Regions from separate parts of the Homo sapiens genome. Here all the other regions are linked to region 1. Evidence: fine-mapped expression QTL. A gene starts in region 1. Each other region holds a variant in brackets. All regions are shown on one strand. Distances are between the middles of the regions. Region 1 holds the start of PROZ (protein Z, vitamin K dependent plasma glycoprotein). Region 2 overlaps MCF2L (MCF.2 cell line derived transforming sequence like). Region 3 has its middle 16 kb from the start of MIR8075.

Region 1 (10,956 bases):
CCTTTGGTACGTGGTAAATTTGGGGTGTCTGTGAAGGCATTAGCTGGGGCATCAAGGAGGCAGATGGAGCAGAAATCTGGACTTCGGAGGAGAGGGCTCGGCTGGGAGGAAGGTTTTCCCCAGAGAAACGGGCTCCAAGTTGACCAGTGGTGCTGAGAGCGGAGCACGCTTGTTGCTGTAGTTGGCGATGATGGACACTGACATTTGGCGGGTATTTAAGGATATTTGTTTACGTGCTTTGCGTCTTCCCTGTCTGCAGTCTCCCACTGGGAGTCTGGCACTGAGGACGCCTGTGTGTGACCCCCCCAGCCTGTGAGCAGATTGTGAATGGTTGAGGTGGTGGGGGGAGGAGAGGGGCCCCTGCTATGAAAAGTATGGGGGCCTGTCTGGAAGGGGCAGCTCAGAATGCAGCCAGCCCCCGGCGTGGTTTCTGGAGGAGAATCTGGTTGGGATGAGAGGAATCCCCTGGGGTGAGCCAAATCGCGGTTCACACAGGCACCTTCATGGCTACACCTCAGGAGGGGCCCATTGGGACTCTGGCCGAGGATGTGAGGCCCACCTGCCCAGGGAGGCCCTTGGGGGAAGGGGACGGCCGGGGCCTCACCCAGCTCGCAGTTGCTGCCCTCATAGCCGGGGGAGCAGGTGCAGGTGTAGCCCCAGATGCTGTCCTGGCAAGAGCCGTTGTGGAGGCAGGGCTGGGAGATGCACGGGGAGCCGCCTGCAGGAGGAGGATGGGGGTTGGGGTGGTGGTGACAGGAACGGGGACCTGAGCAGGAGGAGGGTGGGGGTGGTGACAGGAATGGGGACCTGAGCAGGAGGAGGATGGAGTGGGGGGTGGCAGCAGGGACGGGGACCTGAGCACCTGAGCAGGAGGAGGGTGGGGTGACAGGAACAGGGACCAGAGCAGGAGGAGGACAGAGTGGAGCAGGGACGGGGACCTGAGCAGGAGGAGGATGGGGGGACGTGGCAGGGACGGGGACCTGAGCAGGAGGAGGATGTGGGGAGGTGGCAGGGACGGGGACCTGAGCAGGAGGAGGATGTGGGGAGGTGGCAGGGACGGGGACCTGAGCAGGAGGAGGATGTGAGGAGGTGGCAGGGACGGGGACCTGAGCAGGAGGAGGATGAGGGGACGTGGCAGGGACGGGGACCTGAGCAGGAGGAGGATGTGGGGAGGTGGCAGGGACGGGGACCTGAGCAGGAGGAGGATGTGGGGAGGTGGCAGGGACGGGGACCTGAGCAGGAGGAGGATGTGGGGAGGTGGCAGGGACGGGGACCTGAGCAGGAGGAGGATGTGGGGAGGTGGCAGGGACGGGGACCTGAGCAGGAGGAGGATGAGGGGACGTGGCAGGGACGGGGACCTGAGCAGGAGGAGGATGTGGGGAGGTGGCAGGGACGGGGACCTGAGCAGGAGGAGGATGTGGGGAGGTGGCAGGGACGGGGACCTGAGCAGGAGGAGGATGTGGGGAGGTGGCAGGGACGGGGACCTGAGCAGGAGGAGGATGGGGGGACGTGGCAGGGACGGGGACCTGAGCAGGAGGAGGATGTGGGGACGTGGCAGGGACGGGGACCTGAGCAGGAGGAGGATGTGGGGACGTGGCAGGGACGGGGACCTGAGCAGGAGGAGGATGGGGGGAGGTGGCAGGGACGAGGACCTGAGCAGGAGGAGGATGTGGGGACGTGGCAGGGACGGGGACCTGAGCAGGAGGAGGATGTGAGGAGGTGGCAGGGACGAGGACCTGAGCAGGAGGAGGATGTGGGGAGGTGGCAGGGACGGGGACCTGAGCAGGAGGAGGATGGGGGGAGGTGGCAGGGACGGGGACCTGAGCAGGAGGAGGATGTGGGGACGTGGCAGGGACGGGGACCTGAGCAGGAGGAGGATGGGGGGACGTGGCAGGGACGGGGACCTGAGCAGGAGGAGGATGTGAGGAGGTGGCAGGGACGGGGACCTGAGCAGGAGGAGGACGGGGGGGCAGGGGGTGGCAGGAATGGGGACTGAGCCTGCTCATGCTGCTCCCCATGCCATCGCCTGGCCCCCAGGACGCTCCCCGCTCCGGATGTAAGGCCTGGCTGCCAGTGCCTCCCACTCTGCTGGGTGCCCTTTCTTCGTCCGCACGCGGTCCCCTCTGTCCCGCCCCATCAGCCCTTCTCCGGCCTTCCCTGCCTCTCCCGCTTCCTTCTGTGCCCAGTTGTCCCCGTGCTTGTCTGGTGGTGGCTGCAGCTCTTTGCTTACTCATTCCCAGGTGGGTCCTTACCCTGGCCTCCCCCAGCCCCGTGGGTCTCCATCTGTGTTACTTCTGTCCCATGCTCTTCTGCAGTTGCCCACCTAGAGCTCCTCCCTTGGGAGGAGTCTCCTAACCAAAGTCTCCATCGGGGCCATGACTTTCCAAAATTTGAGACGAGTTCTGACCCTGCTGCAGCATGAGGCTTCCCAGGAGCCCAGGAGCCAGGCGGCTGGAGGAGCTGCTCTGGGGGGGCCCTCCTGGCCTGTGGCCCATGTCCCAGAGTGCCAAGAAACTACCCAGACACTGGGCAAGACAAACCAGGCACTGCCTGTGGCCCTGGTGGCAGAGCCCGGGGGCTTCCTGACCTGGTCCTTGGGGAGAGTCGGAGCTGCCCTTCCCTGGAGAGACACCGTGGGTCCTGGAGCCAGAGGCTTGGCATCCGCTGAGCTGGGGTCGTGAAGCGTCCTAAGCCCACCCACGCACCTCATCCCGAGGAATTAATACTTCTGAGGAGACGAAGGAAACCACTTACCCTTATATCGTCTCCAGAATTCATCCTTTAGAGTTAAAACATAAAAATGTTACAAATGGGATATTTGTTTTTCTATATTCTTTCCTGTAGATGAACTTGAAGGTAAGAAAATGTTGATTTTATTCACTTAATAGGACAATAGTGGTTGAAACAATGCACAATTTTCCTGTTTTACAGCCTATTTGTTTATGTTAAATGTATAGTAACTAAATGTATCTGTAAGATATATTACTCAACATGTGCTTACCACCACCTATTTGAGGAAGGCCAGAGTCTATGACATGGCACAAACCCACCACCCACAGCCCCTAACGTGGCCCTTCCCTTCTAGGGCCAATCTCCACGCCACCCTCCACAAAAGCACATGATATAGAAGTCACATCACCTTTTCGCTTTTTATAAACCGAGTTGAATTTTAAAGATATATACCTCTGTAGGGAGTGGGGACACTTAGTTTGGGGTAGGAGTATCTAAAATTAGGAGAATTATTCAGACTTGAAGCCTAGAAAGAAAATGTATGCTGGGTGTCTGATCAGTGTGTGGGCCTTGCCTGACCTGAAGAAATGAGTCCAGTGGGCTCTGAGCTGACTTCCAGCCCCACTCACTGCTGTAGGGAAAGGTGGATTAAGTCGATTCTCTAAATTGTTTCCTCATCTGTAAAACTGGGATTGTGTCAACCTCATCGGTAAGTAAATAGGCTAATTAATTAAGCTTAATCTCTGAGAAATGATGCTCCCTGGGCCAGCAGAAGTCTAAATAATGAGGAGGCCTGTGGTTTGTGGTGGGGGTACATACAGTGACTACTTCATTTTCAAACACTTCTCTTGCTTCTTCATAGACACAGATTTCTTCATAACATTCTTTTTCCAAGTTTCCCTCGAAGAGTTCTTCCAGAAGATAGGAGCCCGCACGCTTCCACCTCACCAGAACGTCGTTTGCTTTGGAGGCCGGGAGAAATACTACAGACGAGACAAGAAGGCAGGTGACTGGGAGCACCGAGGGCCCTGCTTTCCAGAGCTGCCTGGCTTCCTCCCCGGCCGGCCGCCAGCCCCAGCCCCGTCCGTCTCCACAGGCTCTCAGCCTGCGAGGGCCTCAGGGCCACCCCGCTACTCCCTCCCCCGAGGTAGGCAAGCACTTCATCCTCTGGGCGAATGGATCAGCCCCAGGATCAGTGCGGATACACTAAGGTTCTGCAGAGAGGCCACGGGCCTCAGTCAGGAAAGTGGAGGAGGGAGGGCTCCAACTGGGTTTTGGGTCTGAGTGCGAAGGAAGGCTGAGCTGGGGTCAAAGGTCCCCGTACTGAGAACTGGGGACCAAGAGCCATCAGCTCCTGTGCTGCCTCTGTGCGCAGCATTTAACATCTTGATAAAACACATAAAGAAGAAACTTATACATTGCAGCAGGCTCTGCGATTTCCAGGAGGAGAAGGCAAATGAGTTGACCCGCGGCAGTGGTCTCTGGAGCCTCTTCCCACCTGAGGGTCCCAAAGCATGTTCTCTCCCTCTCCGGGAGGGTCAAAGCCCAGGCCCTTCCCATCCTCCCTCCTTTTCTCTCGGTGCTGAGGGTTACAGCAGGGGGGGCTCAGCTAAGTCCGGCTACGGTAAGTGCTGGGCAGGGCAGGGCGGGGGGATCACCCTCTCAGGGTGGGAGACCATGGGGCCAGCGGGAGACCATGGGGCCAGCGGGGATGCTGGGTGTTTTGACTTGCAGCTTTCCTGGACGCCTGTGCAGGCAGAGTCAGAATGGAGTCCATGTCGTTCCTTCAGTGAAGTGGCTGGTGGTAGAAGGGTGGCAGGCAGGCAGGGTGGCTGCTCCCTGGCTATGTCTCCTGACTCAAGACTGGGCATTCCTGGCTGGCCTGGCCAAGGCTCTCTCTGCCCACATTGCAGTCTGGGCTCAGCCTGCCCCACCCCCTCCCCTCGTCCAATGCCCAACCCAGGCCTCCCCCCACTCCTCCCCCTTTCCCCCTCCCCTCTCCCCGGCCTTTCCCGGCTGAATCCCCTGCACACAGGCTTCTTTCCATTTGGGCATCTCTTGGGAGGACCCCAAGTGACACTATCATGTCCCAAATACTTGTCACCAAATGATAAAGATCCAAACAGCTTTTTCAGGGGAATTAAGACTAGTCTGGGCACTCAGGGCTCCTCTGGCTCCTGGAAAAAGCCTCATCTACAAATCCACCATGGACCGAGTCAAGAAAGACACAGCACAGGCACAACAGACAGGTAAGCCAGATGCCTACCTGAGGGCTCCACACGATGGAGGGCGAGGACCAGGACCAGGCCCTGGAGCAGTGGGACGCAGCCTGCCATTCCCACCCGGAGCGCTGGGACAGGGCTACAAACACAGCCAAAGTCCAGGCTGGGGGAGGTGCCGGCAGCAGGAGCCTCGGGGCACGACCTGTGCAGCTGTGTGCTTCCCTCCTGACGTTTTCTGTTTGAGGCCAGGCAGAGAAATGAACGGTGAAGGCTCAGAGGACCCTGGGAGATATTTAGGGAGACAGAGAACAGAAGGTAAAGGCAGCAGGTGCAAGGTGGAAGGTGGCACCCATGCCCGTGTGTGGTCAATGGAGGTGAGATAGGCCCTGGGGACACAGCACTGGGCGGGACAGACAAAGTCACATGCAGCTTACGTTCTAGGTGTGTGTGGAATACACAGAAAAGAACGAGGGAAAGAGACAGGAGGGAGTGAGGGAGGGAAAGCAGGAGGATGGAAAGAAGGAAGGGGAGAAAAGGAAGGGAGGGAGGGAGGAGGGAGAAAGCGGGGAAGGGCCAAATAGTGTCTGTCACTACAGCTCAGCACCATTGTAGCAGAGGCAGCATAGACAATCATGAATGAACACTTGGCTGTGTGCCAATAAAGCTTTATTTATAAGAGCTATTAAGGGGCCAGATTTGGCCCCAGGGTTGTCGTTTGCTGCTTTCAGATGTAGGCCCTGTGTATTAGTCCCTTCTTACACTGTTATGAAGAAATAGCCAAGACTGGGTAATTTAAGAAAAGAGGTTTAGTTGACTCCCAGTTCCACATGGCTGGGGAGGCCTCAGGAAACTTATAATTATGGCAGAAGGCACCTCTTCACAGGGTGGCAGCAGAGAGAATGACTGAAGCAGGGGAAATGCCAGATCCTTATAAAACCATCAAATCTCTTGAGACTCACTCACTATCCCAAGAATAGCATGGTGGAAACCACCCCCATGATTCAATTACCTCCCACCGGGTCCCTCCCAGGACACGTGGGGACTATGGGGATTACAATTCAAGATAAGATTTCGGTGGGGACACAGCCAAACCATATCAGCCCTTGAAGCCTGAGGTAAGAACCTGGTGTTTCATTTTCACTGTGTTGGGAAGATATTGGAGGGAACAGGAATTGACATGGAAAGATTTGTGCTCTGAAGGGATCACTGGGCTGCTGTGTGGAGAACAGAACATTCCAGAGAAGTCAAAAGGGAGGCTGCCGGCTAGTCCAGGAGGGGGTGAGGGTGCAGCCATGCAGCAGGAAGCACGTTTGCAGTCTGGATGCTTCAGGAAGGGAAAGCTGATGGGATTCATGATGAATTGTGTCGGGCAGCACGGCTCCAAGGTTTGGGCTGAGCGATTGGGAGGATGGCAGTGCGTGTGCTGAGACGGCCAAGCTCCAGGAGGGCAGAGGGAAGCGAGGTTTGGCAAATTTGAGGTGTCTGTGGGATGTCCAGGTGGAGACAGGAGTGGGCATCCGAGAAGCTGGGACTCACAGTGGAGATTCAGGTGGTAACAGATGAAATGACAGCATTGTCAGCATATAGATATTGTTCGATTGAATGACACTCAAAGGTGGCAAAACTCAATGAAAGGATTCTAAATACAATTTTGTTAAAGTGGGAACAGAAGAAAACTAAGAAGCTGACACCCTTGATTAAGAGGGCATGCCCGCAAATACACTGAAGTTGTGAAGTTTGCTTTAAAAAGCTGGGAAAAGAAAATAAAGTTTATCTTTAGTGAGTGAGTTAAAATAATTTGAAAGCCAGAAGTTGATTGTATAGGATAGCTCTTGGGTGAATTGCACCAGCCTGGCAATCTACGTGGCCTTCACTTAAGAAAAGGTGCCTTTTTTTGTGTGAAAATGTATTCCCACATGGAAATTTACATTAAAAATACTTCTGCTGGATAGTTTAAAAACCATCAATAGCTGCCTAAAAATGGAAAGGCAGACAGGGACATACACATTCGATCAATAAGTGTTAATTAAGCACATCCTATATGCCTGACATGGGTATCTGAGCTACAACCTCTTCCCTCATGGACCATTTTAGTCTGTTGGGGCTGCTGTAACAAAACACCTTAGAGTGGGTAATTTACGATAAACAGAAACGTAGTGCTCACAGTTCTGGAGGATGGGAAGTCCAAGATCAAGGCTCCAGTAGACTCAGTGTCTGGTGACGGCCCATGATTCATAGACGTGTCCTTGGATGGTGGAAGGGAGGAATGTGGGTGCTCCCTGGAGCCTCTTTTGGGAGGGCAGTCATCCATCCATGAAGGCAGAGTGCCTCCCAGAGGCCCCACCTCCTAGTACTATTGCACAGGGGGTTAGGTTTCAACGTGAGTTTTGGGGGATGGTTTGGCTCTGTGTCCCCAACCAAATCTCACCTTGAATTGTAATAATCCCCACAGGTCAAGGGCAGGACCAGGTGGAGGTGATTGAATCATGGAGGTGGTTCTTGTGATAGTGAGTGCATTCTCACAAGAGCTAATGATTTTATAAGGGGCTTCCCCCTGTGATTGACACACATTTTCTCTCTCCTGCCACCCTGTGAAGAGGTGCCTGCTTGCCATGATTATGTTTCCTGAGGCCTCCCCAGCCATGTGGAACTGTGAGTTCATTAAACCGCTTTTCTTTATAAATTACCTAGTCTCAAGTATTTCTTCACAGTGACATGAGAACAGACTAATACAGGAAGGCATCAACATCGAGGCCACAGCTGTGATTGACTGTGTTGTACGTGGACTGACCGTGTTGTATGTGGTGATTTAATTTTCTCATCTGCCTTCTCAAAGATACCACCTTTGGACCAAAAATTCTACAATAATAAATTGTCCAAACATTAAGATTCACCTCGTTCTACTCATCTTCCTCATCTCTCATATGAATAATCGTTCTTCTGTCACCCTCTTCTGTTCTGAAAAACAAACCAACCAACATTGGGACACTTTTTCCATTGACTGGTTTACTTTCCTTCTGTATACCTGAGGAGAATCTTCCTTCCTTTGGGGTCTTTGTCGTGTCCTTCAGATGTTGGGGTGTCCTCTGTGGGGGTCCCCAGCTTAAATCAACTGACCCCACAACTTTGTGTGGAACCTGAAATGAGCAGCCTATGGAGAACCTGGTCATTGAATACTTAGATCTTGCCGCAGTCCCTATTTAAATACCTGTTCAATCAACTCTGGGACCTATGTTTTAGATTTCAACATCTCTGAATTGGCCTGTTCCCTACAGCCAATGTTCTAATGTCAGCCTGGACAAGGCCGAGTTCTTCCTGAAAGGGGTTGTGCTTTATGTTGCCCCCTGGGGGCACTGCCACTTTGCAATCCCTTTAAATACATTTTTTTGTGTGAGTTTTGGGAGCCCATGTGAATAGTGTAAATGTATTGCAAAGCTGGTTCCTGGCTGGCCTGTGGTTTAGATTATCTGAGCTTCCCCCTCTTGCCTCCAGGCTGAGCTGACCCACAGCTAATTTGGGTATATGCTCTTTCTTTCAGGTTCATCAATAATGGTGCGTCTTAGATTCACAGAGTAGAGTGTGGTCTAGTCCACTTTGTGGTGCTGTAACAGGATATCTGAGACTGGGTAATTTATAAAGAACAGAAATTTATTTCTTACAGTTCTGGAGGCTGGGACATCAAAGGTCCAGGGGCCCCCATCTGGCGAGGGCCTTCTTGCTGCGTCATCCCATGGTGGAAGGTGGATGCGCGTGAGAGAGAGAGAGAGAGAGAGAGAGAGAGAGAGAAAGGGGAGAGAGGAAGGGGGCCAAACTCATCCTTTTATTCCAAAATAACGAACCCACTCCTACAATAGTGGTATCAATTCATTCACGTGGGCTCTGACAATGAATGCGTCTTAAAGGTCCCACCTCTCAACACTGTTGCCTTGGGATTAAGTTTCCAACACGTGCACTATAGGGACACATTCAAACCACAGCATGCTGCATCCTCTGATGTCCACATTGTGGATGGAGGTGGCAGCTTATCACCTGGAGCTCCTGAAGAAATTAAAGAGGAGACACATGGTGACGCAGCCCACAGCCTGGCGTTTTTAGCATCTCAGAAGCACTGACAGGGACCCGCAAGCTTATGAGAAACTGTTCAACTCATTGGGCTTCCTCAGAGCTTGGGAGACCATTAATGTGGAAGACACTATCTGGACATGTTTCTCTTTTTTCCACCTGTCTAGATTTTCTTTCAGGATCGGGGAGACTTCTGGAGTAGAAAAGCCACTCCAGAACCCTTCCTCCTCCTCCCCCACACCCCGCCTCATGAGCGGCTGCCCTCCGCGTGGCATGGAGTCCCCGCGTCCACTCAGAACCCTTCCTCCTCCTCCCCCGCGCCCCGCCTCCCCCGCGCCCCGCCTCCCCCGCGCCCCGCCTCCCCCGCGCCCCGCCTCCCCCGCGCCCCGCCTCCCCCGCGCCCCGCCTCCCCCGCGCCCTGCGTCACGTGCCCCTGCCCTCCCCGACGCCCCGCCCCCCACGCCCCTCCTCCCCCACGGCCCGCCCCCCCACGCCCCTCCTCCCCCACGGCCCGCCCCCCCACGCCCCTCCTCCCCCGCGCCCCGCCTCCCCCGCGCCCCGCCTCCCCCACGCCCTGCGTCACGTGCCCCTGCCCTCCCCCACGCCCCGCCCCCCACGCCCCGCCCCCACGCCCCGCCTCCCCCACGCCCCGCCCCCCGCGCCCCGCCTCCTCCACGCCCCGCCTCCCCCACGCCCTGCGTCACGTGCCCCTGCCCTCCGCGCAGCATGGAGTCCCTGCGTCCCGGCTCCACGGTGCGGGAGTCCTCCGTGGTGGCTGAATTCGCCTTTCAGGCCCTATGTTCAGGATTTGTGATCTGGGTTTTAAAAACATTTTTTAGAAGTCATTGGTAATTAAAAACAATAAGTTTTTTATTGTGGTAAAATAGACATACAGTTTACCGCAGGAATCTTTTTTTAAGCGTACAGTTGGCTGACCCTGAGTGAATTCGCTGTTGATAATCTGCTTCTCCCTGAGCTGCTGTCGCCCACACTCGCCGCTGGCCGTGCTTGTTTTTCTCCTGGAACTGGGGCCGGTGTCCCTGTTGACCTTGTCCCGGGTAGCTGAGCCCAGGGGACTCTCCTTCCTAGGGTTACCGCTCAGTATCAGCACAGCCACAACGTCCAGCCAGGGAGGGCATCCGAGGCCCTCAGCACCCACCCCGGGGGTCCGGCCCGCGTCAGGCTGCGAGTTCCCGAGTCCCTGGACCCAGCTGTGCCTGCTGGGGTCAGCGCAGTCTGTGAGCCTCGACCCCCAGCTCCCAGCAAGGCCTCCCAGCAAGGCCTGTCGGAACCCAGCGGAGACCGGCGGCTGGGGCTTGTCCTCGAGCGGGGGCGCAGGACACGGGGCGCGGGGCTCCTGCCCTTGCAGCGTCCTGTCAGGATGGACGACCCAAGCCAGACGGCGCTCCCTCCCGCCACACCTGGCCGTACTGGCCTCCAGCCATGCCGGTGCTGCCGAGGCCCCCGTGTGGGACAGGCCCCCGCTCCCGCCCGTCCTCCTGGCTGCATCTGCACCCGCCCGTACCCGCACCGGGCCTCACTGGCCCCTTCTCAGACCGGCACAGCCAGGTAGGTCCTCCCTAAGCACCACAGGTCGGGGCGGCTGGGCGTTTTGTAAGGACAAACTGCGACCGTGAACCCCGGGACGGCTCAGCACCCAGGCAGCGCGGCCTCTGAACGCTGTCTGCGGACTCGTCTCTCCTCCCCACTGGCCCGGCCACACGTCCATCCAGCCCCGCTGTCTCCCTCTTTCTGTGTCTGTCTCTCCGCCCTCTTTGTGTCTTGGTGTCTCCTCTCTCTCTCCCTCTCCCTGTCTGTCTCTCAGCATCTCTCTCTGTCTCTGTCTCCTGTGTCTCACTGTGTCTTTCTCTGTGTCTCCATGTCTCTGTTTCTCTCTTGTTCTATTCTCAATTTTTTTGTTTGTTTTTTACCTGGACTTACT
Region 2 (10,956 bases), 110 kb after region 1:
CCCTTGTGCATAAACTAAGGGCTCGGTCACTGGGCGGCTGCCCTCCCCGTCCAGGGCAGGTGGACAATGTCCTGTCACTGGGTGGACACTGCACACCTTTCCCACAGGACCCCTCCCATGGAGACCTCTGCTTCATCTGCATTGCGTGGGGAGGGCAGGGACCACGGCCCTCAGTGGCCGGCACACTTGGCAGGTCCTCTGCGGGTGTCTGCTGCGGAGTGGATGAGGGAGGGGAGGCTGATGGCTTCCGGGGGACTCTCCTGTCTCCGCTGCTCTCCACACCCATTCTCTCCAGCCTCGGCCCCCAGGGAAGTGCTCTGGAGGGGCCCTGCATCTGCGCCCTCTCTGCCCCACCATCTCACACGACGCCTGGACATAGACTAAGGCCACAGCCATTCACCTTCTGCAGGGAGCACGTGTGGGTAAGATGCTGTGACGGACAGGCTGAATTACAAGCAGGGAATCGTGAGCTGAGCATCTGCCAGGAGTGTGATCCTGGTGGACGAGGCGCCTGGGCAGTCCTCCTTCGAGAAGCAAGCCCCAAAGAGTGGGACGCCCCAGGGCAGATTCTGTGTCTCAGCAAGGGGCGGACTGAAAATCCCTCACACTGCTGTGAAATTGGACACCACTATTTACGGAAAACCAGTCTTTTTCTGATGGTGCGATGAATCACGCTCTTCTACGTTTCACTGTCGTTTTTATCACCTGGATCTTTAAGGACAAGCTGAGAGCCTGAAGCTCAGAGATGAAGCCAGGTGTGTGTGTGTGTGTGTGTGTGTGTGTGTGTGTGTGTGTGTGTGTGTGTGTGTGTGTGTGTGGCGGGGGGGGGGGTCCACGTCTCCAGCAGGTGCAACTATTTGCCCCTAAAGCCTCTGGGAGTGAAGCATACCCCTGCAGCAAGGCTGGTCCCTGAGGCTCTGCCAGCATCAAACATGACCCCCTCTTCCTTGGCTCAGTTTTAGGGTTTCGTATTTTAAGTTATTGGATCATTATATTAAATAGAATAAATTGGAAGATCCTAGCTGAGTGAGAAGGTGCTAACGATGTACACAAACACATACTTTGAATAAATATAACAGCAAATAAAATTTTCTCTGAATTGGAGTTGACCGTTTGTATTAAAAGCTGGGGAAAGTTCTAAAATAAAAACTTTATTTTAAAAGATGGGGGTAAGTATAAATGGTAACTGGATGAAGAATTTGGGATGGAGGCTGTCAAGTCTTTTTGTAAATTACTCAACAGTAAAGTAATCCTATAGGTTTCTATCTAACATGAAAACAATATTGCTCATTTTCTGGGCTGACCTGGATGAACTTAGGAACAGATATGTGTGATGACCACAGCACTGTAGTCTGGAGATAGAAAAAGAGTTCACTGGTTTCTGAGTTAATATTCTTAGAGACTCAGAAAACAATCGCTGCATGTATTTACCAATGCAGCTAAAGCAACAGGACATGCTGGGAACTTTGTAGAACTGGGTACTTTGGGGAACCCTGTTTGAAAAACCCTCCCCAAGTTCAAATCACCTTCCTTAAGGTCTGCTCCAAGCCACACCTATCCAGCTTGACATTATATATTTAATTTCAGAGCAACTGAAACCTCACCAACTACATTTGTCTGACAGTAGCCAAACAGTAAACACAAGTTTATATAAAAAATATGCATTTGAAAGTTTGTTTGTGTCTCTGTGTTAACAGATGAAGAAGACGTTAGAGCCGGAATCAGAGACGCTGGACCGGGTGAGGAAAACAATGGGCGTGGACCCTGTTCCTGCAGATGTTCAGACACGAGTGCTCAGAATGGCCGCTGCCGTGTGCGTGAGGCCATCACTCCTAAAACCAATCCTAAAAGCGCGGCCGTTTGGGGACTGGTCCTCTAGCAAATGGTCCTCTAGAAAGCCTGGGAGAAAATACAGGGAGAATCTGCAGACACACATCCAATCGCACTCCCACTCCCGAATGTACAATAATCTCCACGAATTTCACGGGAAGCAGACCTGGAGAACAGGCGTGCATCCAGGATCCTGAGATTGGACTCGAATGACATTTGGGTGGGGACTACTATGAAAATAGGACAGTCTGTTGATTGATTGATGGGAGGGAGCTCGCCGTCTCTCCCACACTCACCCCGCAGCTCAAGCCAAGCCCCAGAACCTCCCCTCGGCTTCTCAGCAGACACCAGCAAAGTTGTGCCAAGGTTCTGCCCAGCGTTGGTTGCGTTTCGCCGATTCGGAGCCGTGTGAACTGAGCTCCCATCAAGAGTTGAGGAGTATTCGGGTTGTTTTTCTGGTCAACTTGTTAACCAGCTCCCTAAGGACCAGGACCCTGAAGGGGCGTGCATGTTTACTTTGCAATCAGTGAAAACCTCACTCTGCAGAGGCGGAGAGTACAGGCAAGATCACTGGAGACACAGCTGCAGGGACACAGGAGGAGACAGAGTAACAAATGGAAGGAGGCTCCAGGCAGGTGTGGATGCAGACGCCAGGCACCTGCTGCTCCCCTTGAAAACACAGCCCTGTGGCAACCACCACCGAACCACCCATTCAGGCAGAAACGGTCAGTGGACACCTCAGCCACGGGACCTTCGCCCCGTCCTGAGCATCACCACACATGACCCACTGATTACCAAGAGGAGAGGCACCTTCTCCTGGGGAAATCCGGACGCCTCCTTGGCCGTCTGAGCACACAACACCGCCCCAATCACGGGACACATGGACATCCTGGGCCTCCACGGGCTGCCCCAGAAGCTCACCCACCAGGATTCCCGCCCCAAAGGACCACGTGGAACCTAATTACAAGGAAACCAGATGAAAGGATATTCCATAAAGCAACTGGCTTCAACCCTTCGCAAATCTCAATCTCACAAAAGACAGAAAGCAAAACAAAAACCAACAACTGGGTGGATTAGAGACGACTGAGAAGGGTGGACAGCTGACGGGGGCGCCGTCCTTCACTGGACCTGGATTTTAACAAATACAGGAAGGACATGACGGGGCACGTGGAGAAAGCCCCATGTGTGGGCATCCAGAGGGCAGTGTGGCCGCGATGCAGACTCGCCTGTGGTTATGCAGAGGGCAGCTCCACTCAGGAGACACCATGTCAGCAATCCGGGATGAACTGACACGATGGCAGAGCCGGCTCTCACCAGCAAAATGTGTGTGTGTGTCTGTGTTTATGTGATGTGTGTATATGTGCATATATGTGTGTGTTTGTGTGTGATGTGTGTCTCTGTGCCTGTGTGATGTATGTCTCTGAGTGTATGCATGTCTGTGTGATATGTGTGTGTGTTTATGTGATGTATGTGTGGGTATATGTGTATATATATGTGTGTGTCTGTGTATGTGTCTATGTGATGTGTTTTGTGTCTGTGTGATGTGTCTGTGTGATGTGTGTACATGTCTGTGTCTATGTCTGTGTGTTTTTGTACACACGCACACACACACACACGAATGGGCACTTTGTTTATGGCCACAGCTGAGGTTTGTTCACTGTGAGACTCTCCCAAGTTTTCTGTAGGTCTGAAATTTTTCTGAACTGAAAGTTGAGAGGAAAAAGACACGAGGCTGCTGCAGCTCACAGCTCTTCTCCTCCATGCGTGGGGCAGCTGCATCTCCCCTCCCTCCTGATCCGACCTTCACTCAAATGCCTGAGCCACCGGGATGCAGGGGTTCTGACTCCGTGCAACGAGCTCTAAGCTGAAAAAAATAAACCAGGCAAATAGTCTCGCTCCAGGCATCCAGGGGAGTGAAGAGCAGCGCTGGAGAAGCTCAGCCAGCAGTCCCTGGCCTCTCACCGGCAAGGCCTGGCTCTGGGTTTATCAGTCAGGGAAGCCGGCGTGGCCTGCAGGGTCCACGGCCCACACGGAGCCTCATGAGGCACCTGGTCCCAGGGACCCCCGGGCTCCTTCCTCTTCTCTGCGAGAAAAAACCGCTGAGCGAGCCCGGGTCTCAGAGCTCTTTCTTTTTCTCTGTTTATCTTTTTAAAAAAATGTTTCTACATTTAACTGACAAATCATGATTGTATCTACTTACGGGGCACCCAGTGATGTTTTGCTATAGGTATCCTCAGTGGAATGATTAAATCAAGCCAATTAACCGATCTGTCACCTCACCCACTCACCAGTTTTCTGTGCTGAGAACATTTAAAATGGATTCTTTTAGCAATTCTGAAATATACATTTGGTGTGGTTGGAATGTTCGTCCCTACCAAACTTCGAAACTCATGGCAGCATTGAGAGGCAGTACCTTTCAGAGGTGACTGGGTCAGGACGGCCCCACCCTCATGAATGGATTCATCCATTCACGGATTCTCGGATTAACGGGCTGTCGTGGGGGTGGGTGGGGGCCTGGTGGCTTTGTAAGCAGCGGGGGCAGCCCTGGGCTGGCTCACTCTCCCCTCGCCAGGTGAGGTCCCGCGTCGCCTCAGGACCCACCAGCAAGAGGGATCTCACCAGGTGAGGCTCCTCAACTGTAAGGCATGAATTCTTTTTCGTTGTAAAGTGCCCAGTTTCAGATACTCTTGACATATAAGCAGCAGACCCGGACTAAGACAACCTTGTTATTCACTGTGTCGCCTCCGAGGTCTTTAGAGAGAGCAAAGTGGCTCGTGCCGCCCGTTATTGGACCCTTGGATTCCATGTTCCAGGAAATACACAGTGAAGAAGGGCTTGGGGCCTCTGGATCTCCCACCCCTGCTGGATACCCCAAGGCTGTCAAATCCACCCTTAGGTGGGAGGAGCGAACCCTCGGATGAAGGACAGTCGTTTAAATAGACGCTCTCAGCGTCGTGGAAGCCTCACGGGCTGCCTCCCCCTGCAATATTCTGCATGACCGGCACCGCCCACCGCCGTGGCCCTGGGACCACCGGAGTAGGGAGAGAGCTCGGGCTTCAGAGACAGAAAGGCCCAGGCCGCCCCCAGAGCCGCCCCACCCCATCGGCAGCTTCCCTCGTCGCCCCGAAGCCCAGCTCCTCCCCTGTAATCGGCGGTTGGTGAACGCGCAGGGTGCGCTGAAACGCATTTGCCACAGCAGCTGGTGCGGAGGAGACAGCCTGCAGATCCTGGTCCCCTTCTGTCCACCACGGGGGGACTGTGCTCACCTGGGCAGGTGCTTGCTGCACACAGCAGCGGTGTTCTGAGAAAGCTCAGCCACACCGGGAAGAGCTGGGTCCCCCACCCCCGTGTCGCCGCAGTTATGCAGCGCGCATTTCAGTTCCCTGCCCTGGGGGACGGTCTCGCCTCTTCCGAGAGGGGCACACGGACCTGGCCCTCTCTCCCTCGGCAGCCAGCTGCTTTGTGTTCCCAGGGGAAGCTCCTCGCCCCCCTCCATCTGGACAACTCCTCCTCCCGTCAGGCTCTCACCAAGCATCACCTCCGCCGGGAAGTCCTCCTGGAGTTAGCACCGCTCCCACCGCCCCCTGCCGCCCCCCTCCCCCCGCCACCGCCCCCCGCACCCCCCCGCTCCCCCCGCCCCCCCCGCCCCCGCCCCCCCTGCTCCTCCCGCCTCCCCGCTCCCCCAGCCACCCCCCCCTCCACCGCCCCGGCCCCCACGGCTCCCACCGCCCCCACCGCCCCCACGGTGAGCTCCTCCCCAGAGCCCCAGTAGCTGGCACAGGGGGGCCGCATACAATCGTACTTTGCAAATGTGAAAGATTTGCTGGACGACCTAGAAGTCCGGGGTCCCTCAGACACCTTGTTTTCTACCTTTCCTGCACACACAGACTGCACCGGCGTTACAGGAAAGAGAGTTGTGGCCCCATGCAGTCTAAAAATCAGATTCACTTTCTCCAGCCACCTACTTGAGGATCTAGATTTAGTTTGATTTAGGCTAGCTCTAAACATGAATATATATACTCTATTACAAATTCCCAAAATGTGAACACGCACACACACACTCACTCTCACACACACACACTCTCACACTCACAGTCTCACACACATTCACTTACACTCCCACTCGCGCACACACTCACACACTCACACAGTCTCACATTCACTTACACTCCCACTCGCTCGCACACACACACAGTCACACACTCACACTCACACACTCACACATGCAGTACAGTGGAAGAGGGTTAGATGTTGCAACAGCATTTTATAAAAGATGCTTCTATCTGAGGACCGCACAACTGCCTAAGGGAGAAGAGACGTGAGTTCTCAGAGGATCTCATCTTTCTGCCCCCTGGGTGGGTAGCTGTGAACCTATCCTTCTCCCACACGCCCTCAGCATCACATGGGTCTTGCTCTCGATTGGGAGCCTGGTTTTAGGAACACTGGATTTTGGCTCTTCCAATGTCTAATTTTTCTATTCCAAGCCATGCTGAAGGCATCCAGAAAAGAAAAAAGAACACCCCAAATTAGGGAGAGCTCAGCTCTTAAGACAGCACATATGGTGGCTAAAAATAGCCCCGGATCCCGGCACATTATGTAAGCGCTGCGTCCTCCTCGGTGGCCGAGCGCTTGGAGGCAAGTCTCTGCCACGGGCTTGCTTTGTGGCGCCCGCAGCACCATGAGCTGGGCACCCTGGTGGGGTCGGGCAGCTGGAGCCTGTGCCTGTTTGGAAACCTGCTTGAGGGCTCGGCTGGCCTGGACTGTTGCTAAGTGCTAGTTTTCCCAAAGCCACTTTAGGTGGAAGCCTAGGCCAGCCAAAGCTCGCTGTCAAGGCCTGGAGCCCAGGGGTTGGCGTCCAGGTGCCCCGCTGCAGCCACTACTTGGTGTCCCCACGTCAGGTCAACTGCACCATTTCCAAAAAACTGAATCAAGATGCCCAAGGGGTCATCCCTGGTCTGCCCTCTCCAAGGAGTGCGTGGCTCATGGACAGAGCCTGGGGCCTCCCCGCCAGCCCCACCACCCACCCCTTCCCCACTGCAGAGACCCTCACCCCTCCTGGTCTGCCCAGGACCTAGGCTTGGCTGGGTCCACAGCTGCCCTCACTCCCTTGACCAGTGACCCTCTAAGCCTCAGCACATGCACAACCAGCTCCTATGACAGTGCCACCACTGCCCGCCTCCTGCCTCCTTGGCCTTGTGGCCCACTTCTCCTTCATGAAACCAGGGCTGTGAGCTCCATGTCTCCTGGCCCATCCAATGTCCACCATCATCATCTCCTGCCGGTTTCTCATGCCCCTCCTGCACCAAACCCTTCTGGAGGCGGCGGGCTCCTGGGTAGCAGGGGCCTGGGGACAGGAAGACGCCCTCTCCAGGGTCACAGCCCAGGTGGATGGGGCCTGGCATGTGGGGCCTAACTCTGCCCCCTCCCCATGGCTCAGCCACCCTCCTGGCTGCTCCCTGCTGCCCCTGCCTGTGACCCCATTGTGATGCCCCTCAACTGTCCTCACCCAGCTGGCGGTGAGCCTTGCTCACTTCCTCCCTCACATCCGTGATGCCCAGGCAGTGCCTGGGACAGAGAAAAGCCTCAGGACGTGCTAACTACACAGAGTCTGTGTATTAATATGACCATAAGCCGGGCG[C/T]GGTGGCTCACACCTGTAATCCCAGCACTTTGGGAGGCCGAGGCAGGCGGATCACGAGGTCAGGAGATTGAGACCATCCTGGCTAACGTGGGTGAAACCCCGTCTCTACTAAAAATATAAAAAATTAGCCGGGCGTGGTGGCAGGTGCCTGTAGTCCCAGCTACTTGGGAGGCTGAGGCAGGAGAATGGCGTGAACCCGGGGAGGCAGAGCTTGCAGTGAGCTGAGATCGCGCCACTGCAGTCCGGCCTGGGCGAAAGAATGAGACTCCGTCTCAAAAAAAAAAAAAAAAAAAAAGACCGTAAATTATTATAGCAAGAAAGCACTGGTGTTCAGAGAGAATTCTGGGTGATTTTGCTGGAAAATGCTGGCTTCTGTTACTTCCAAACCAATGTTGGTCAATTCTGAGAATTAAAGGAAGGACAGAAAAAGCCATATTTTTATGGTGTAAGAATCAATGCAAAAATAAAAACTAAAACACTAACTGTTCAGTTATGATGCTCACAAGACAGAGCTTTCAAGATGAGCCAACCTGCTTAAGAAATTCATCCGATCACACACTCGGTGAACGGAACAGGACACTCGGCAGCTGAAGATCGACACCTAAATCACGGGTCTGCTGTGGGCTGCTTCGCTATCCTGTAGGGTGACCTCGCAGAAATACTTTGCTTTTAGAAAATGATTTTTGTATTTCTTAAAAAGTAACCTCGTATCTGGGGAAGCTCTTGTCATCTAACCCGGGAGTGACTGATTAATCTGAGACACACACGTGGTGATGTGTGTGCGAGGGCACTGGGGCACGCGTAGCGAGGCGTCAGCGGAGGGGCCGGGGCACGCGTAGCGAGGCATCAGCGGAGGCTCTGGGGCACGCGTAGTGAGGCGTGAGCAGAGGGGACAGGGCACGCGTAGCGAGGTGTGAGCAGAGGGGACGGGGCACACGTAGCGAGGCGTGAGCAGAGGGGACGGGGCACATGTAGTGAGGCATGAGCCGTGTGAGGGACGGGCTGTGGCAGGTGTGTGAAGATGCAGGTGCCTGGACCCCACGGGCATGAAAGGCACCCAGGTGCGTCCTGACACCGCAAGTGCCCTGGCAGGGAGGCCGACTCCTACACCCACGTGTTGCTAAGAGTCGTCCTGATGGCTGGTTTATATCAGCGGCAGGTAAGCATAAAAGATGCGGCTGTAACGGTGTTGTCTGTTGTTTAAACGACGACGTGCCTGCTGGGAGCATTGTGGGACCCGCCCAGGACGGATGGGTGCTTCCCAAGAGTATCTGTTGTCCGTCCATGTGTGTCTGACCCCGTGGGTTCTTATGATTTAATTTTTAGAGTTGCCTATGACTTCATGTGCAAACTCATTTAAGACGTACAATAATGAAAGGCACACATGGCTGTTAGCTGGTGATGGCTTTTATCTAAAGAACTTTCTGCATTTCTGGGGATGCTTGATATGGATGGGATTTTTGTCCCCTCCAAGTCTCATGTTGAAATGCGATTCCCAGTGCTGAGGTGGGGCCTGGTGGGAGGTGATTAAGTCTGGGCGTGACCCCTTATGAATGGCTCAGCGCCATCCCCTTGGTGACGGGTGAGTTCTCGCTCAGTAAGTTCACTGGAGATCTGGCTGTTCAAAAGTCTGGGACCTCCCCCTTCTCTCTCGCTCCCTCTCTCACCATGTGATGCCGGCTCCCCGCTGCCTTCCACCACGACTGGCAGCTCCCTGAGGCCCCCTCAGAAGCTGAGAAGATGCAGGTGCTAAGCCTGTGCAGCCTGCAGAACTGTGAGCCAATTACGCCTCTTTCTTTATCAATTACCCAGCTCAAGTACGTCTTTATAGTGACGCAAAAGCAAACGAACGCACTGTTAAAACAAAGGAAGACCGATTCTATACACGTCTACTTTTTTGGAAGCATCCTGAAGCGTTTTGAATTATTTCAGATAACGATGCCATAGGTGGTGTGTGCCAGGTTGAGTCAGGGTCAGGAACGGGGATCCGCCGCGGCGAGGGGCAGAGAGGTGCCGTGGGGGTGCAAGGAGATGCCTCATCCTAAAGACTTCGATGAGAACCAGCGGCTCAGGGACAGGCTTGCACCAAAACGATGAAGGTTGTGGGCATCGGAGCAGATATGGGGCCTCTAATTCTTGTAAAAGATGAAGGAATGAGGCAATGTGCGGGGAAAGGAATGACTTTTTTCAGTATACCTCAAACCTTGGCGCACCAGCCAGCAGCCACCGAGAGGCTGGGGAACCCAAAGGTAGTCTGAACGCGGGACCCAGGAAAGGCCAGGAGAATCTGACTTCACTGGGAGAATCTGACTTCACTGGGGTTTGGTGCTGGGGAATGCTTGGAGCAATTGTGCCATCACAGCTGAGGACCCAGGGTCCCAGAGCCTGGGAGGGACGGGCTGTGGCGGGCGTGAGAACATGCAGGTGCCTGGACCCAGGCTCTGGGTCACCTCTTGGCAGACAGGCAGCCTTTTTTGGTCCTTTGGCAGCAATGAAATTTGGACGGACAGGCGGGGAGAGCGAGCGTGGGTGAAAAATGCTCCATGCCGGGGTCATGCATACGGGTGGGAGCTACCGACAAAAATAAGATTTGGGGGCTTCTGCTGACTTAATCTCTTCCCTCTTAAATGATTACTCTGGGTTAAAACCAACAGCAAACCCAGCTCCCCTTCTGCTATGGAAGGCAGCGTGCAGAATCTGCAAACAGACTCTCGGATGCCAAGGGAAAGTCCTTGGAAAGGAGGGTGGCTACATGCGAGGCTGGGTTACTGGGGAAGGGAGGCGGTGGTGGCTAGTTCAGTGTCGCAGCTAGATGGCCTGATTTGGAAAGGAGAAAATCACATAGGAAAGCTGTGCAGTACCACTTCCAACTTCCAGCCTGGAGCGTCTCTGCACACAGCCCCCGTCCTGCCTGGTCAGGACTGTTGTGCTTTGTGTAAGAGGAAGTGCATGTTCAATCCCACTGGGGAAGGGAGGCGGTGGTGGCTCGTTCAGTGTCACAGCTAAAGATAGATGGCCCGATTTGGAAAGGAGAAAATCACTAATGTATAAATATGTAAGAGGCATATTCAGTCCCGAGCATCTCAGACTTGGTGTTCGGAAACATATGGGCTGCTCTGCCTGGGGAAATTGTTTGCAAGTCACATTGGGCTCCCTAAGAGTTCCTTCATCTGGGAAAACTCACACCCAGGCACCAGTGCCTTGGGAGCCCAAGCAGGGGGGGCCTTGGCGCCGGCCTCCACCCGCCGGGACTGGGCTCTGTCCCACTCAGCACAAAGCAGGAACTGCGGCAGACACAGAGGAAGGGCACCATGCGGTCATGCAGCCCAGGGAGGGGCCGGGCGCAGGGCAGAGCCCCGGGTGGCACTTACTGCGATGCGCAGGACGGACGCCTTCACGGAGGTCCATTTGTCCCGTCGCCGGTCTATCACCAGGATGAATCCGATGCCAGCGTCCTGCAGGCTGCAGTGAGGAAGAGACGCCGCCGT
Region 3 (10,956 bases), 120 kb before region 1:
TCAGAACCGTGTTCACGTCATGCCTGAGGAGATGGTGATGAGAGGAAGGGTGTGACGAAAGACCTGCAGACACATGTCCATCTGTGGTCTCCAGGTGGTATCTGTTAGGAAGGCTACCTGGAGGCATCAGTCATCAGTTAATCTAGCCATTGTCTGTTTCTGTTTCATAAGAAGAAAACTTTAGGATCCAGACAAGACCATTAAGAAAGATCACGATGACCATGGCACTGACTTTGAAAAAGATCCTCAATGAGGAACTATTAGTTTATCTAAGTAGAGCTAGGTAAAAATGCCTCGTTCATTTTCCATTTTTTCTTTTAATTTTTATTTTATTTTGAGAAAGTCTTGCTCTGTTGCCCAGGCTAGAGTGTAGAGGCATGATCTTGGCTCACTGCAACCTCCGCCTTCCAGGTTCAAGTGTTTCTTCTGCCTCAGCCTCCCAAGTAGCTGGGATTACAGGCATGTGCCACCAAGCTAGGCTAATTTTGTATTTTTAGTAGAGATGAGGTTTCGGCATGTTGGACAGGCTGGTCTTGAACTCCTGGCCTCAAGTGGTCTGCCTGCCTCTGCCTCCCAAAGTGCTGACATTACAGGCGTGAGCCACTGCACCTGGCCTCTTTTAACTTTTAAAATCAACTTCATTGAGGTTAGTTTACATAAAATAAACCCATTTTAGGTGCTCAGTTTGAAGAATTTTTACAAGTATGTATACCCATGAAACCACCACCCCAATCAAGATAGGAAACATTTTCTTCAATCCAGAGGGCTCCCGCATGGCCTCTGCGGTTCACCCGACCCCTAAACCCACACGGCCACGGGTCTGCTTTGTCACAAGAGATGAGTTTTGTATCACAGCATTTCACTTTGTTGGAAGCACAGAGTGTGTACTTCGTTGTGTCTAGGTTCTTTCTCTTTGGGTGATGTTTTTGAGGCTTGCGCATGTTGCTGTATGCAGCATGCCTTCACCCTTTTTAGTGCGAAGGCACATCCCGTTGTTTGGCTCTACCATAATCGTCTGCTCATGCACCTGTTGAAGGACATTTGGGTTGTTGTTTCCATTGTTTTGGTAGTTACAAATAAAGCTGCCGTGAATGTTTGTGTGCAGGTCTTTTGTGGATCCGTGCTTTCCCTTCAGTAAATACCTGGGAGTGGAATGGCTGGGGCGTGTGATAGGTGCGTGTTTAGCTTCCGGAGAAACTGCTACCTGTTTCTCCAAAGTGGGTGCACCATTGCATGTTCCCCACAACAGCGTCTCCACATCTCTGCCAAAACTTGGTATTGTCAGTCTTTTTTTCTAATTTTTTCTTTTTCTTTTTTGTCTTTTGCAACAGAGTCTTGCTATGTTGCCCAGGTTGCTCTCAAGTCCTGGCCTCAAGCGATCCTGCCACCTCAGCCTCTCAAATAGCTGGGATTACAGGTGTGCACCACCACTCCCAATTTGTCTTTTTAATTAAAAAAATTATAATAGCTTTGTAATAGTGTCTCGTGATTGTCATTTGCATTTTACTGACAACTAATGGCATGGAGGGTCCTTTCATGTGTCTGATATCCATTTGTATCTTTTTCAGTGAAGTGTCTATTTATAGAATGTTTGGCATATTTTTAAGAATGGTTTATTTTCTTATTGTTGAATTCTGAGTGTTCTTTACATATTTTGGACACAGATCCTTTGTCAGCGCTATGTATTGTAAATATTTTCTCCCATTCTATGCCTTGCCTTTTTTTTTTTTTTTTTTTTTTTTTTGAGACAGAGTCTTGCTCTGTCAGGCTGGAATGCAGCGGCACGATCCTGGCTCACTGCAAGCTCTGCCTCCCGGGTTCATGCCATTCTCCTGCCTCAGCCTCCCGAGTAGCTGGGACCACAGGCACCTGCCACCACGCCTGGCTAATTTTTTTTGTTGTTGTATTTTTAGTGGGGACACGGTTTCACCGTGTTAGCCAGGATGGTCTCAATCTGTTGACCTCGTGATCTGCCTGTCTCAGCCCCCCAAAGTGCTGGAATTACAGGCGTGAGCCACCGTGCCCAGCCACCTTTTTGTTTTCTTAATGGTATCTATCAAAGAGCAAGCTTTCAGTTTTTTTAATGTATTTTATTTTATTTTGAGACAGGGTCTTGCTCTGTCACCCAGGCTGGAGGGCAGTGGCACAATCAGGGCTCACTGTGGCCTTGACCTCCCAGGCTCAAGTGATCCTCCTGCCTCAGCCTCCTGAGTAGCCGGGACTACAGGAATGTGCCACCACGCCCAGCAAATTTTCTGAGTTTTTTTGCAGAGACAAGATCCACTGTGTTGCCCAGGCTGGTCTCAAACTCCTGGGCTCAAACGAATCCACCCGCCTTGGCCTCCCAAAGTGCTGGGACTCCAGGCATGAGCCACCCCGTCCAGCCCAACACCCCCTTATCCTATCTCAAGCATTTCTTTCTACTGACCTCAAGTCTTTAATTCTTTCAACCAGTTGCCAATCAGAAAATCTTTGACTCCATCCATGACCTGTAAGCCCCTTCCAACCTTCACTTCAAGATGCTCTGCCTTTCCAGGCAAACCAAAGTATACTAACCTGCATCCGTTTACGCCTTTGCCCACAACTTCTGCCTCCCTAAAATGTGTAAAACCAAACTGGAACCCAGCCACCTCACGTGCATTCTCAGGACCTCCTGAAACTGTTCCCTGGGCCATGGTCACTTGTATTGGCTCAGAATAAACCTCTTTCTTTCTTTCTTTCTTTCTTTCTTTCTTTCTTTCTTTCTTTCTTTCTTTCTTTCTTTCTTTCTTTTTCTTTCTTTTCTTTCTCTTTTCTTTCTTTCTCTTTCTTTCTCTCTCTCTTTTCTTTCTTTCTTGCTGTCTTTCTCTTTCTTTCTTTTCTTTTTTTTTTTTTTGAGATGGGATCTTGCTCTGTCCCCCAGGCTGGAGTGCAGTGGCACAATCATAGGCTCATGCAGCCTCAAACTCCTGGGCTCAAGGGTAAACCTCTTTCAATATTTTACAAGTTTGGCTTTTTCGTCAAAATTGCCTCGGCATCTTTATTTTTTTGTTTATTTGGTTTTTGCTTTTTTGAGACAGGATCTCACTCTCATGACCCAGGCTGGAGTGCAGTGGTGCCATCACTGCTCACTGCAGCCTCGACTTCCCAGGGCGGGTGATTCTCCCACCTCGGCCTCCCGAGTAGCTGGGACTACGGGTGCGTGCCACCACACTCAGATAATATTTGTATTTTTAGCAAAGATGGGGTTTCACCATGTTGCCCAGGCTGGTCTTGAATTCCTGAGCTCAAGTGATCCACCTGCCTCGGCCTCCCAAAGTACTGGTATTACAGGTGTGAGCCGCTGTACCTGGCCTGGCATCGTTGTTGAAAATAACTTGACCTGATGTAAGTGGATGAAGTTTTATTCTCTCTGTGTAACTCAGTTGATCTCTATGTCTCCCCTTTTGCTAATATCACAATGTCTTGATTTATAGTAAGTCTTTGGTATTAGGTAGAGTAAGTCTTCCAACTTTGTTCTTTTAAAATTTGTTTTGACTATTTGCACTTCCATATACATTTTAGAATCAGCTTGTCATTTTTCTATAAAGAAAGCCAGAATTTTGCTGGGCTCTGGATTGAATCTATTATCAATTTGGAGGAGACTGACATCTTAATATTGGGTTTGACAATAATGTGGTATACATCTCTATTTATTTTAGTCTTCAACTTTTTTTTCAACCATGTTTTGTAGTTTTCAGTTGTGTTAGATCATTTTGGCTGCTATAACAAAATACTGTACATTGGGTGACTCATAAACACTGGAAATTTATTTCCCACAGCTCTGGAGGCTGGGAAGCCCAAGATTGAGGCGCTGGCAGACTCATTGTTTGGTGAGGGCTGCTTTCTGGATCTTTGATGGTGCCTTCTTGCTGTGTCCTCGCATGGCGGAAGGGACTGGCTACTTCTCTGGGCTCTTAAAAGGGCAGGAATCCCATTCACAGATTCCACCTGCACGACCTCGTCACGTCCCAAAGGCCCTACCTCCTGATACCATCACCTTGGGGGTGAGGATTTCCACACACAAGTTTTGGGGGTACACACTAGTCTACAGCATCATATAACCATCTGAATCCACAAATGTCTCTCTAAACACGCTCTAGTGCATCGGACAAATTTTTGGTCAATTATTTTCATACTCATCAAATTCAAAACATTTTCTAATGTTCTTTGTGATTTTTCTTTGACTCGTGGATTACTGATTTACAAGTGTGTTATTTATTTAGAATTTTCTCTTTATATTAGATTTATTCAAAAATATATTGCTTAATTTTTTTTTTTTTTTTTTTTTTTTTGAGACGGAGTCTCACTCTGTCACCCAGGCTGCAGTGCAGTGGCACGATCTTGGCTCACTGCAACCTTCGCCTCCCGGGTTCAAGTGATTCTCCTGCCTCAGCCTCCTGAGTAGTTGGGACTACAGGCACGCGCCACCATGCCCAGCTAATTTTTTGTATTTTTAGTAGAGATGGGGTTTCACCATCTTGGCCAGGGTGGTCTTGAACTCCTGACTTTGTGATCCACCTGCCTTGGCCTCCCAAAGTGCTAGGATTACAGGCATGAGCCACTGCACCCAGCCTATGCTGAATTTCTAACCGTTTAGTTATTTAGTTATCTTTCTGTTAGATATCTAACCTCATTGTGGTCAGAGGATGCATTCTGTATAATTTTAATCCTTTAAATATATTAACCCTTGTTTCATGAGCCACCCGTGCTCATCCTGGTGTGTGCGGCTGTTGTTGGGTGTAATGCTACCTGACTGTCATTGTTGGGTGTAATTCTATGTGACTGCCGTTGTTGGGTGTAATGCTACGTGACTGTCGTTGGGTGTAATGCTATGTGACCGTCGTTGGGTGTAATTCTACGTGACTGTCATTGTTGGGTGTAATTCTACATGACTGTCGTTGTTGGGTATAATGCTACGTGACTGTCGTTGGGTGTAATGCTATGTGACCGTCGGGTGTAATTCTACGTGACTGTCGTTGTTGGGTGTATGCTACATGACTGTTGTTGGGTGTAATTCTATGTGACTGTCATTGTTGGGTGTATGCTATGTGACTGTTGTTGCTGGGTGTAATGCTGACTGTCGTCGTTGGGTGTAATGCTACGTGACTGTCATCGTTGGGTGTAATTCTATGTGACTGTCATTGTTGGGTGTAATGCTATGTGACTGTTGTTGGGTGTAATGCTACACGACTGTCATTGTTGAGTGTACTGATACACGACTCTCAACTGGCTCCAATTAGCAAAGAGTGTTTTTCAAGTCTTTTCTATCCCTCTTGATTTTCTGCTATCTCCTCTCAGTTACTGAAAGAAGAGGGTCAGCACTCCTGCTGTACCCATGGGTAGGCCTGTTTCCTGTTGCTCTTGTCTGCCCATCAGCTTTTGCTTTACATATTTTGAGGTCTGTGAATAGAGGCCTGCCCAGTTAGGGTTAAGTCTTGGGATGAACGTCGGTGTTTTACCGTTATGAAAGGTACCTCTTATCTCTGGTGAGATTCCTTGTCCTGAAGTCTACTTCGATCTGAATGTAGCCACTCTTATCTTTCGCATTCGTCTTCATGGTATGTCTTTCTTCATCTTCTTTCTTCTTTAGACAAGGTCTCAGCCGGGTGCCGTGGCTCACGCCTGTAATCCCAGCATTTTGGGAGGCTGAGATGGGTGGATCACTTCAGGTCAGAAGTTCGAGACCAGCCTGCCCAAATCCCATCTCTACTAAAAATACAAAAATTAGCCAGGTGTGGTGGGTGGCGGGCACTTGTAATCCCAGCTACTTGGGAGGCTGAGGCAGGAGAATTGCTTGAACCCTGGAGGCGGGAGCTGCAGTGGGCCAAGATCGCACTACTGCACTCCAGCCTGGGCAACAGAGCAAGATTCCATCTCAAGAAAAAAAAAAGGCTCTATCTTGCCCGGGCTGGAGTGCAGTGGCGTGATCTTGGCTCACAGCAATCAATCTCTGTCTCCAGGTCAAGCCATCCTCCTACCTCAGCCTCCCAGGTAGCTGGGACTATAGGTATGCACCACCATGCCTGGCTAATTCTTGTATTTTTTTGTAGAGATGGGGTCTTGCCATGTTGTCCAGGCTGGTCTCATACTCATGAGCTCAAGCAATCTGCCCGCCTCGGCCTCCCAAAGTGCTGGGACTGCAGGCGTGAGCCACCGCGCCCAGCCTTCTCTTCTTTTTGTTAAGAAGCATGCTACCATGGTTCATTTGGTTCATTGTATTTGTTCAAGGACTCGATTGCAAGCATGAAATCAAGCATGGGATTTGATTCTGTGAGCCCAAATTCACATACTGAAGAAGATAAAAGCAAACGGTGATGCATGTATATGGATGAACACTGAAGGCTCAGGGTTCATCTCACTGTGGTTTTAAATTTCTACAGCTTAGGAGTCACAGGTCTTTGAGGTCCTTTTGGATGTCCCACGGGGTATCTGCACTTTTCTTGAGCAGAACAACCTCATTATCCCTTAGCTGTGGTTGGTAACACTG[T/G]TTAATCCCTGAGCAGTGAGGGTACATGGGAGGCTCCAGAGGGCTTCATTCTTGGTGCCCTGCATCCCCTTCACTATTGTTGATACTGGGTGAGCCCTGGACAGATTTTTCAACGTGGATTCAATAAGATCAGCTACACTTCACCCAGGAGCCCAGTCGGTATATCCTTTTAGCTTGATGACCACAGGCACTTTCAACCACTATCTTATACACTTCCTTCCAAGTTTCCTGATCATCATTAGTTCCCATTTCTGGATTCAATTCCTGGAGAGAAACACCTGCCACGTTCACACTACTCCACACAGCCACACTTGAGTCACTGTGTTCTCCCCAAATCCATCCGTGGCAGAATCCAGATCACACCCACTTCCAATCACACAGTGCTTGGGTAATCCAACATATGTAAGAATGTGCACTGCATTGGAAACCTCAATTATGATGCAACCAAGCTCTCTCTGTACCAGGTTGAGATGACTGTCTCACTCTTTTGTTTTTAGACGTAGTCTCGCTCTGTTGCCCAGGCTGGAGTGCAGTGGCGTGATCTCGGCTCACTGCAACCTCTGCCTCCTGGGTTCAAGCAATTCTCCTGCCTCAGCCTCCTGAGTAGCTGGGATTACAGGAATGCGCCACAACACCTGGCTAATTTTTTTTGTATTTTTAGTAGAGATGGGGTTTCACCATATTGGCCAGGCTGGTCTCGAACTCCTGACCTTGTGATCCTCCCATTTTGGCCTCCCAAAGTGCTGGGATTACAGGTGCGAGCCCAGTGGTCACAGAGTCATCTTTATCTGCCATAATTTTAGGTGTCTGAAGAAATAAGCTGCCATCTGCAGATCCACCATGCCACCTTTACACTGATCTTCCGTAGCACGCACAAGAGCAAGCTCATCAGAGACCTTCCCAGAGGCAGAGAGCACGCGCCTCACCAGCTTCTCCAACACGCCCACAGTGATCTGCTTGTTTGGGACCTGTTGCCCCTTCTGCAGCTGGTGCAAGGAGTCTTTCCTTAAGAAATGCCCTTGTGCCCAGGAGAGAGTAGGCTCTGGAAACTGCTGTAACAGTTGTACAGAGAAGACAATGCCAGCTGCGTGCGTCTCGTGGTCTTTCTTCATCCTTTAACTCATCTGTGTCTTTATTAAAATGACTCTCTGGGCTGGGCATGGTGACGCACGCCTGTCGTCCCAGCAGTTCTGGAGGCTGAGGCAGAGGATCCACTTGAGCCCAGGAATTTGAGACCAGGCTGGGCAACACAGTGAGATGTCATCTCTACAAAATATAAACAATTGGCCAGTTGTGGTGGCGCACACTTGCTACTCAGAAGGCTGAGGTGGGAGGATTGCTGGAGCCTGGCAGATTGAAGCTGCAGTGAGCCGTGATTGTGCCACTGCACTCCAGCCTGGGTGACACAGTGAGATCCTCTCTCTTGAAATAACAGTGCCTTTGTAGTAGACAGCATATACTTTGGTCTTAATTTTCTATACAGCTTGAAAATCTTTGGCATTTAACTGGAGTGTTGTTTATGTCATTGTTACCAATAAATTAATGAGATGGTCAGGTTCAAGTCCACCCTCTTTCCATTTCCATTTGTCCTATCCGTTCTTTATTCCCTTTTAAAAGTGAATTTCCAGGCCAGGCGCGGTGGCTCACGCCTGTAATCCCAGCAATTTGGGAGGCAGAGGCAGGCAGATCACGAGGTCAAGAGTTCGAGACAAGCCTGGCCAACATGTTGAAACGCTGTCTCTACTAAAAATATAAAAATTAGCTGGGCATGATGGCGGGTACCTGTAGCCCAGCTACTCGGGATGCTGAGGCAGGAGAATTGCTTGAACCCAGGAGACAGAGGCTGCAGTGAGCCAAGATCACATGACTGCACTCCAGACTGGTGGCAGAGCAAGACTCCATCTGAAAAAAAAAAAAAAAAAGAATTTCCTGTCTGCCTTTTGTAAAACAAACATAAAATTCAAAGCCCCCTCAGACCATCTGAATGGACCGCTGTATCAGGGAGGGCATTTCCAAGGCTAACCTGAAGGGCTGGCTCCGGCCATGATGGGGGCAGGGGTCAGACATGACTCATGATACCGCCTTTTGGAATTATTGATAGAACAGACTCTTTAAGCCTCATGAGAATCTGTTCCCTCTGAAGCCTGCCACCTGGAGGCTGCATCTGCATGGTGAAAGTTTGGTCTCCACAGCCCCTTATTATAACCCAGACATTCCTTTCTGTTGATTCCAGGTCTTTAGATAATAACTCTTTCAACCAATTGCCAATCAGAAACATTTTAGATCTACCTATAACCTGGAAGCCTCCCACAGCCCCTGTTCCAGACCAAACTAACGTACATCTTACATGTATTTGATTGATGTCTCATGTCTCCCTAAAAATAAATTAGTCTGTGTCCTGACCACCCTGGGCACATGTTCTCAGGACCTCCTGAGGCTGCGTCATGAGCCATTGGTCACTCATACTTGGCTCAGAATAAATCTCTTCAAATATTTCACAGTTTGACTCTTTGTCAACACTTTGGATTGAGTGTTCTTTCAAATTATACTTTGTCTCCTCTGTTGGCTTGTTCTTTCTCTCTTTGCCTCTCTCTCTGGTATTGTTAGTGGCTGCCCCAGGGTTACCACACACATCTCTGGCTCATCACACTCACTAGACCATCTCCCCTTTCCCCCAGGGCTGTCACACACATCTCTGGCTCATCACACTCACTAGACCATCTCCCCTTTCCCCCAGGGCTGTCACACGCATCTCTAGCTCATCACACTCACCAGACCATTTCTTTCCCCATTCTTTGTGTCGTGTCATTCGTTTTACTTCTACATATGGTATTAATGCCAACATATATTATTTTTGCTTTCAACAGTTGTTTTTAAAGAAAATAATGATTGTGTAGCTAATTTGTGTGAGTGTCTACCCAAATGCTTGCAAGTGCGGGCGCTCCCCAGGCCTTCGGCAGACCCTGGCTTCTATCTGGCTTTGCTTTCCAGCAGCTGAAGCTCCTTCCTCCTGCACTTCTCCTACTAGAGGTCTCTGTCTGAAAAGGCATACTTTGCCTCCATTCAGAAATGTATGTTCACTGAATACAGACTTCCCAGCTGACAGTGTTTGCTTCAGCTCTTCACTAATGTTTCTGAAGATAAGCCACTTAGATTTGTATGGAACTGGGTTTTCCTGATGAAGAGGCACTGTGCTTGTGCGTGACTGTGACTCATTCCTCTTTGCTGGTGTGTAGTACGTGTCCTAAGCAGCTTTGTGTGTGTTCACTTGGAACCACCCCATGAGGTAAGTAGGATTATTATCTCCACTTATAAGAAAACCAAGGTTTAAAGAATTGCAGGAATTTGCTCAGGGGCACCTGGAGAGTGACAGATGGAGGACCTGGCAGAGGGGGGACCTGGCCAGTGTTAAAGCTTCTCTGCTGATCCCAGTGCCTTGAAGGTGCTGTTCATTCTGTGAAGAGTGGACTCCTGGCAGGCGTCCACTTCTCAGTACAATGCTCCCTCAACTTGTGCTGCAGTTGGCCTTGGTTCCTCCATCACGGACCACAGAAAGCCTTACCTCTGCTCGGCTGTCCGCCCCTCGGCTTCCTTAGGACCTCTGCCGGGGGAGCACACTGCGCGGGGATGTGGTTTCCCTGTTCTGTTCCCTGGGAGGAGCACGCTGCGCGGGGATGTGGTTTCCCCTGCTGTTTGGGAAACCTGCCCGCAGTTATTTCTCCTTTCCGTATGCTCAGATTCTCCCCTTTTCTCTCTTGCTTGCTCAGTTTGATGCTTGCTCAATTCTCATTACCCGAGAGCAGCTCTCCCTGGCCTCTGCCTTGCCTCCAGCTACATCTCGCCGCACCCACTACCCGTCGGGCCCAGCACACAAACTGAATGGCCCGAGATGCCACCGTGATGGTCTGTTTCTGATTCTCACCATACCTTAAAACTCCCTTCTTTTGTTCTGTCACACTCGTACTTCTCCCCATTCTTATCTTGCTGGTCTTTGTTCCTTCCACTGGCCCTGCTTCATTCACTCCTCAGTGTTTACTGAGCACTGTGCACCAGATGCTATAGACTTGGGGACAGGCTTGTGCCTAAAAACACGACTTCAGAAGCCTGACGAATGGGGGCCCAGATCACAACACACGTGCTTGAGCTTGAGACCTGTCTTAAAGAAAAAAAATTGACAACTCTCTGAGGCACTAGTTCAATTTTTTTCTTGACGGCATCTAGCGCTGTTGCCCAGGCTGGAGTGCAGTGGTGCCATCATGGCTCACTGCAGCCTTGACTTCCTGGGCTCAAGCAATCCTCCCACCTCTGCCTTCTGAGCAGCCAGGAGTATAGGCATGTGCCACCACACCTGGCTAATTTTTATATTTTTTTGTAGAGATGGGTTTTCACTATGTTGCCCAGGCTGGTCTTGAGCTCCTAGGCTCAAACAATCTGCCCACCTTGGCCTC

Evidence for each region.
Region 2: its variant is fine-mapped to the expression of PROZ in uterus (GTEx, PIP 0.99).
Region 3: its variant is fine-mapped to the expression of PROZ in monocytes (Quach 2016, PIP 0.91).

Annotation. Positions count from the first base shown.
Region 1 is chr13:113,152,771-113,163,726 of GRCh38, reverse strand. It overlaps PROZ (protein Z, vitamin K dependent plasma glycoprotein), which reads right to left and starts at 5,079. Exons shown (of 8, transcript NM_003891.3): 1 at 4,997-5,079; 2 at 3,550-3,713; 3 at 2,755-2,779; 4 at 605-718. The coding sequence starts at 5,066. It overlaps LOC124903216 (a long non-coding RNA gene), which reads right to left and starts at 9,227. Exons shown (of 4, transcript XR_007063880.1): 1 at 8,862-9,227; 2 at 8,612-8,670; 3 at 7,847-7,910; 4 at 7,117-7,197. F10-AS2 (F10 antisense RNA 2) reads left to right here and starts at 9,741. Exons shown (of 3, transcript XM_011537532.4): 1 at 9,741-9,813; 2 at 9,957-10,583. The coding sequence starts at 9,741. RefSeq lists enhancers at 3,865-4,442, 5,019-5,596 and a silencer at 9,311-9,360.
Region 2 is chr13:113,045,245-113,056,200 of GRCh38, reverse strand. MCF2L (MCF.2 cell line derived transforming sequence like) reads right to left here. Exons shown (of 30, transcript NM_001112732.3): 4 at 10,840-10,930. Among named protein-coding and RNA genes, the nearest start is that of F7, 55 kb to the left of the region's middle. RefSeq lists an enhancer at 5,131-5,717. The variant C/T (reference allele first, on the strand shown) is at 7,469.
Region 3 is chr13:113,273,188-113,284,143 of GRCh38, reverse strand. It overlaps the pseudogene LDHBP1. Among named protein-coding and RNA genes, the nearest start is that of MIR8075, 16 kb to the right of the region's middle. RefSeq lists enhancers at 8,416-8,710, 9,663-10,162. The variant T/G (reference allele first, on the strand shown) is at 6,509.